2 linked regions of the Homo sapiens genome follow. The protein of the gene in region 1 interacts with the protein of each later gene in a biochemical or structural test. Each region holds a gene or a part of one and is shown on either strand. Other genes may lie near its edges.

What was found. Proteins that work in one complex are often made in the same cells at the same time.
Region 2: the proteins of PRKACA (region 1) and CREB1 form a complex in vitro, tested with the Homo sapiens proteins (2 studies listed by BioGRID, with this or other methods).

What each region holds. Positions count from the first base shown.
Region 1 is NC_000019.10:14,096,991-14,100,867, forward strand, and holds part of PRKACA (cAMP-dependent protein kinase catalytic subunit alpha), read right to left. Parts: coding exon 3,836-3,877; intron 901-3,835; coding exon 774-900; intron 685-773; coding exon 589-684; intron 494-588; coding exon 371-493; intron 1-370.
Region 2 is NC_000002.12:207,578,436-207,582,312, forward strand, and holds part of CREB1 (cyclic AMP-responsive element-binding protein 1), read left to right. Parts: intron 1-1,085; coding exon of another isoform or gene 1,086-1,131; exon of another isoform or gene 1,132-3,386; coding exon of another isoform or gene 3,387-3,511; exon of another isoform or gene 3,512-3,711; coding exon of another isoform or gene 3,712-3,725; exon of another isoform or gene 3,726-3,877.

The sequences.
Region 1 (3,877 bases):
ACCTGGGAACAGGAACCAAATACATTCGTTTTTCTGCCTTGGAATTTGCGAAAACTCACACTAACTGGGATGAGGAGCGAAAAGGAGGGTCGTCTGGCAGGGCGGTTTGTGTTCTGTGGCCAAGATGTTCCCGTGAGGCTCGGGATTTTGGAAGCCCATGGGATTCTGGAACCGCGGGGTTGGGGCTGGACAGCAAGGGGGCTTGAGGTGTTGGCCTCAGTGTGGCCGGCGCGTCCAGCTTCACCACCTGGCCTGACTTAAGGAACTTCTAGATTATTCTGACAACAAGCAGGGCTCCCCAGGGAATAGGATGGGTGAGCAGGGAACGGTCTGTTTCTTCCAGGGCTGTGTCCCCACATCCGGACCTCACCTTCCCAGAGACGATCTTCTCATAGATCTGGATGGGCTGGTCTGCGAAGAAGGGCGGGTAGCCAGCGGCCATTTCATAGATAAGAACCCCCAGGGCCCACCAGTCCACGGCCTTGTTGTAGCCCTGGAGCAAGATGGGGGGGCACAGGGTGAGGAGGAGGCGAGAGCAGGAGAGCAGAGCCGGCCTCAGGGGAAGGGGAGGGCTGGGGAGGCTCCTACTTTGCTCAGGATAATCTCAGGGGCCAGGTACTCAGGGGTGCCGCACAAGGTCCAAGTGCGGCCCTTCACGCGCTTGGCGAAACCGAAGTCTGTCACCTGTGGGCACAAGAACAGGCAGTTGGCAGGGAGGAAGGGTCCAGGCCACGGCTTCCCCAGGGCTGCCCCTCGCCCGGCCTGGTGGGCACCTGAATGTAGCCCTGCTGGTCAATGAGCAGATTCTCCGGCTTCAGGTCCCTGTAGATGAGATCCAGCGAGTGCAGATACTCAAAGGTCAGGACGATCTGGGCCGCGTAGAAACGGGCATGGGGCTCACTGATGGGGACAAATGGGGAGGTGAACGTCAGTGGTCATGCCCCAAAATGGTCCAGCAGGTGGCCCTGCAGAGCCTACCCCAGAGGAAGACACCTCCAGTCCAGCCGTCAGAAACGCAAGGCACCTGATTCTTAGATAGCCCGACATGGGAAACAGCCTGTGGGTCCATCCACAGGAAAATGGAATCACAGACTGAGCTATAGTCATACAATGGAATTCCACTCACCACCACCACCGCCAACAGGACAGCCCATGCATCCACTCAACAATGTGGCTGCATTTCAAACTGATTATGTTAAGCAAAAGAAGACACAAAAGAACATGAATGATTCCATTTATATCATGTCCACGCCCAGACAAAACAAAGGCACGGTGTTTGAAGTCAGAAAGGACAACTGCCTTTGGTGGGGAGGTGACGTGTCAAGAGAGGGATTCGGCCCGGTGCGGTGGCTCACCCCTGTAATCCCAGCATTTTGGGGGGTCGAGGTGGGAAGATCGCTTGAGCCCAGGAGTTCGAGACCAGCCTGGGCAATATAGGCAAGACCTCACCTCTGTATGTATGTAGATATGTGTGTGTGTGTGTATATATATATATATATTTTTTTTTGATTAATTTATTTTTTTTAAGACAGTCTCGCTCTCTTGCCCAGGCTGGAGTGCAATGGCATAATCTCGGCTCACTGCAACCTTTGCCTCCTGGAAACAAGTGATTCTCTTGCCTCAGCCTCCTGAGTAGCTGGGATTACAGGTGTGCACCACCACGCCCGGCTAATTTTTATATTTTTAGTAGAGACGGGGTTTCACCATGTTGGTCAGGCTGGTCTCGAACTCCTGACCTTGTGATTCGCCCGCCTCGGCCTCCCAAAGTGCTGGGATTACAGGCGTGAGCCATGGCACCCGGCCTCCACCTCTGTATGTTATTGGAAAAAAAAAAAAAAAAAAAAGGGATTCAAGGGAATTTTCTTAGGTGATAGAAAAGTTCCATATACTGTTTTGGGTGGAGGTTAGGTAGCTATATACAACTGTCAAAACTTGTAGCATGGAACATTGAAGAACTGTGCATTTTGTTGTATGTAAAGTGAATCTATAGTTATCTATCTAAAATACAACTACAAGGCCAGCGCGGTGGCCCATGCCTGTAATCCCAGCATCTTGAGAGGCCAAGGCGGGGGGGGCGGATCACCTGAGGTCAGGAGTTCGAGACCAGCCTGGCCAACATGGTGAAACCCCATCTCTACTAAAAATACAAAAATTAGCCAGGCAAGGGGGCATGCACCTGTAGTCCCAGCTACTTGGGAGGCTGAGACAAGAGAATCACTTGAACCCGGGAGGCAGAGTTTGCATGGAGCCGAGATCGTGCCACTGCACTCCAGCCTGGGTGACAAGAGTGAAACTCTGTCTCAAAAAATAAAATCAAATAAAACTACGTATGTAAACTTATAAGTTAATAAGACAAATTTATAAGTTAAAAATTTTTTTTTTCTTTCAGCAGGGTCTGACTGGGTTACAACCCAGTCTGGACTGCAGCAGCGTGATCACGGCTTATGCAGTCTTTTTTTTTTTTTGCATATGTTGAACCAGCCTTGCATCCTAGGGATGAAGGTGGGCTCATGCAGTCTTGACCTCCCAGACTCAGGTGATCTTCCCACCTCAGCCTCCCCAGGAGCTGGGACTACAGGAATGTGCCACCACACCTGACTTTTTTTTTTTTTTTTTGTATTTTTTTGTAGAGATGGGGTCTTGCTATGTAAGGCTGGTCTCAAATTCCTGGGCTCTAGCAATCTGCCCACCTTGGCCTCCCCAAGTGGGATTATAGGGCATGAGCCACAGTACCCAGCCTGTATCTTAAACTTACAAATTTCTGTATATAGATTTATTTTATGTATAAAAATATATATTAAAATCTACACATATAAAACTGTCCACCTATATAAAATAAAATAATAGTATAATTTTTATTTTATTTTTTTGAGACGGAGTCTCGCTCTGTCACCCAGGCTGGAAGTGCAGTGGCGCGATCTCGGCTCACTGCAAACTCCGCCTCCCGGGTTCACGCCATTCTGCCTCAGCCTCCCGAGTAGCTGGGACTATAGGCGCCCGCCATCACACCCGGCTAATTTTTTTGTATTTTTTTAGTAGAGACGGGGTTTCACCATGTTAACCAGGATGGTCTTGATCTCCTGACCTCGTGATCCGCCCGCCTCGGCCTCCCAAAGTTCTAGGATTACAGGCACGAGCCACTGCGCCCAGCCAATTTTTTTTTTTTAAAAGAGACAAAACCTCACTATGCAGCCCAGGCTGGTCTCAAATTCTTGAGCTCAAATGATCTTCTCACCTCAGCCTCAGGACTAGTGGGACTACAGATGCATGCCACCTTTTGGGGCTCAAAAAATGCACAAAATCAACAACTTCAATTTTTTTTTTTGAGACGGCATGTCACTCTCTCACCCAGGCTGGAGTACAGTGGTGTGATCTTGGCTCACTGCAACCTCTGTCTCCTGGGTTCAAGTGATTCTCCTGCCTCAGCCTCCCAAGTAGCTGGGATTACAGGTGCCCACCACCATGCCCAGCTCAGTTTTGTATTTTTAGTGGAGACAGGGTTTTGCCATGTTGGCCAGGCTGGTCTCAAACTCCTGACCTCAGGTGATCTGCCCACCTTGGCCTCCCAAAGTGCTGGGATTACTGGTGAGAACCACCGTGCCTGGCAGCAACTTCAGTTTGGACACCTAAGTTGCCCTGTTTGCTCTGTTTTGTTTTGTGGTGGTTGAAATATCACATATTCCTCAGCAGAGGGGAAACAGAAACCCACAGGGTCTGGGAGACCACCTGCATGTTGAAGTATGCTGGACTCCTCTGCATTCCCAGGGGGCTTGGTCGTGCACTGCCACCTGTGGACACCCTGACAGCCTGATGTGATGGGGGGTGGCCCGCTTACCTGAACCTTCCGATCCGCCGTAGGTGTGAGAACATCTCCCCG
Region 2 (3,877 bases), on another chromosome or scaffold:
TACTTCAAACACTGATAAAGTGAAAGAAGCAGGGCTTCCAAGTCCTAGCCCTATCCCTCCATTTTGGGAGAAGGTATTAACCTTCTGTACCTCAGTTTTGTAAAATGGGATTCCAGCACACACCCAAAGTATTGTTGTAAGAGTCAAGTAAGAGAATCCTTTGAAAGCACTTTGTAACTGTAGTGCTCTGTTGAAATGGGTTTGTGTGTGTGTGTGCAATTTCACAGCTCAGATCAGCTTTTTTGTTCCTAAAATATTCTTAGCTGTCACAATGTTAGTAAATTATATCTAAACTCTGAGAAATGGCAGAGATTTTTCTGGGATATTAGAAAAAGAGTTGGAAACAAGCCAAGTGACTTTTTTTTTTTCTCCCGAGATGAAGTCTTGCTCTGTCACCCAGGCAGGAGTGCAATGGTGCAATCTCAGCTCACTGCAGCCTCCACCTCCTGGGTTCAAGCAATTCTCCTGCCTCAACCTCCCGAGTAGCTGGGATTACAGGTGCCCACCACCACGCCTGGCTAATTTTTGTATTAGTAGAGACATGATTTCACTATTTTGGCCAGGCTGGTCTCGAACTCTTGACCTTGTGATCCACCCTCCTCGGACTTCCAAAGTGCTGGGATTACAGGTATGAGCCATGGTGCCCAGCCCTCAAGTGACTTTTATTTGTGCTCCATCCATCTGTGATTTTGAGTATTTAAGTTTTACTAAAGAGAAGCATAAAAGCTGCATTCATAATTCAAATATATTTTAAAATATAAATTAAAATCTGTAAATAAAAATTAAAATATTTTCAGTTTTTAAAAATGTTTATAAGGAAACCTTTAACTTAAAATTAGAAGCAAGTCTGATCAAGAAGTCTCAAGCACAGGCTGAGTAGTAATATTTAAGACAACACTGCTTACTAAAGAAAAGAGTTCAAAGCAAACATAGGAGCAGAATCAAAAAATAAATCCTTTTGATTATAAAAAACAACAGAAGGACTTCTGTTTATGTCTATGTAGTTTGGCTGTGTGGAACAAAATGTTTACCCCCGTTGACTGGCAGACCAAATTTCCTTTTTGTTCTATTTATTTTTCTTTCAGATTTATGACCACTGCCACCAACAAGTTAGGAACAGGGCACACATAACTACAGTTCCTACCAGGCTTTGCTTGCCTGAGATCTTCAGGGAAACTACCCGACTTACCATGGACTCTTTCATAACATTACTTTGCTTAGATATAGTTACCCTACTCTTTAAAAAGGAAACTTCTCATTGATTCTGCCATAGTTCCTTTTCCCCTTTGTTACCAGATTACTGCTGCTTTTACTTTTTCAGCCTCCATTCACTGGAATCTGGCTTCTATGACTAGCATACCGCTCATATGTCTATAAAAAGGTACAAATTCCCTCCCACTTGGCAAATCTAGTATTTTCTTTCATTTAATTTTAACTCTATGGAGTATTTGACACTTTCGACTTCTCATTACTCTAAACTCTTCCTTGGCTTACTTCACCTGGTTTTCTGGCTACTTTTCAAATTTTTCCTTTGAACCTTCATCCATACCCATGTATTTCAGGCATTACTTTATATGCTGATACTTCTTAATTCTGTATATTCTGGCTTTGACCTTTCTGCCGAGTGCTATTTATTAAGCTCCAGTATATATTATTTTATTAATTCTACCTACAGTGAGGTAGAAGCTTATCCCCACTTTAGAGGAGGAGAAGGTAAATATCAGAAAATTCAAATATTTTGCCAAAGGTCACACACTTTATGAGATTAGTAGAACTGAAATTTGAACCCATATCTGGCACCAAAACCTGTAAACATGCTACTTCACTGATTCCAGTATGCAGCCATCTTCTGCTGTGCCTCTCAAACCAGAGCACATGGCAGTATGCTAGGGATGTGTAGCCTAAGGAGGTGAACGTGGAGTGCTTTCCTTGAATGTTCATTTTGCTAAAATATTTGAGAGAAATAAACCTTATTTTTAAGGTAAAATAAGAGTTTTAAAAGAAATTTATACCAGCAGTGGTTTTGCTGCACCCCCAGAGTCTCCATATTTGGTTTCCTCTTCTAGTGTGGCTATTTCAGTGGAAAAGTTAAGAGAAGCACACTCCTAAGCATGCTCACTAGGATGAATTTCCCTTATGCACATCAAACACAGCCTATCTTAAAGTTTGATAGGAAAAGATTGTAATCCAAAAAATTCATCACTATCCAAATTGCCATTTATTTCAAGATGAAGGTAAGTGGTAAACATTCTAAAAGAAAGTGTAGACAGCTCTTCTGTTAATTTGTGTTGCTACAGTAACAACCACGAATCTCAGTGTCTTAAAATTTCTTCCTCACTTCTGTTACATTTTGGCAGCTGCAGGTCAGTTGCTGTGGCTCTCCTTCATGTGCCCATCTGGGTCTAGGATCCTGGGCTAGATAGAGCAGCACGTCTTTGAGAAAAGGGCAATGCTTTTGAAAGCATTTGCTTGATTTTGGTGAACGTTACATCTACTCGTGATCTGTTAGCCACAGCACAGGCAAGGACAAGCCCAAAGTCAGTGGAGTGGGAATGAACTCTTCCTACAGGAAGTGGAGAGTGAAAAATTGTGAAAGTAATACAATCTATCACCTTTGCCTTTATGTAACTTTACATTGTAGGGGGATTTTAAAAGCAGATTCCCTAAAGGCAGAAGTAACAAAGGAAAAGGTTAAATGGATTTGACCATATAAAACTATAAACCCCCTATTTAGGAAAGTAAAAGATAAAGTAGCAAACATTTTAACAAATAATGTCAGAAGACTAATGAGTTGAGGGATATAAATAGGCAGATTCTTAGAAAATGGATAGGGTAAAAAATTTGAAAAATTCTAAAAAAATTAAAATGTATTTGATATGAATTAAAATATATCCATTCAACTATATACAACTAGCCATTAAGAGTAAATAAAGGTGTATTTTTATTAAGATGGGAAGATGTTCTCGGACAAAAGCAGGTTACCAAAGAGTATTTACATTACTATCAGGTTTTTTAAATTTATTATTACACAAGTAAAACATGTTCATTATAAGTAAATTAAGAAACATTACCTAAAAATTGAATTACTTCTAATTTCACCATCTAAAATGTTAACATTCTAAAGTCAGTTTTTTTACTCAAACCAGTACAAAGGTAAATATACATTTTTAATATATTTTTAAGTAATTTTAAACTTACAAAGGAGTTTTAAAAATACAGAGTTCCGGATACCCTTCATCCAGCTTTCTCTAATCTTAGTATATTACATAACCAGGGTACATTTATCAAAAATAAAAGTACATTGGTATAATACCATTAACTGAATTATACATTTTATTTCCCCAGTTTTTTTACTTACATAATCCAGTTTGGGTACCATATCGCATTTAATTATAGTCTCCTTCAGTCTGTGAAAGTTTGTTTCCTTGTCTTTGATGGCCTTGTAACTTTTGAAGAGTAGTGATCTGTTTTCTTTTAGAATATCCCTCAGTTTGCATTTGTCCAGTGTTTTCTATGGATAGATTGAGATAATAGGTTTTGGGGAGGAATTCCACAGAGGTATAGTGTGCCTTTCTCATAACATCACATCCGGGAGCACATACATAATTGGCGATATTAACTTTGATCACTTGGTTAAAGTGCTGTCCAGGTGTCTCCACTGTTGAGCTACCATTTTTCTCTTTGTCCAGCCCATATTCAAGGGGAGGAGAATTAAATTCCACCTCCTAAAAGGGAGAATATGAAAGAAATTTGTGGTCATATGTTAAAACCACCACAGTAATTAGGTGTATTTTAGAAGAAGTACTTGGAGGCTATGCAGATATATTCTTTTCTCTTTAAAGTTTTGCCCACCAGTTTTAGAATTCATCAGTAAATC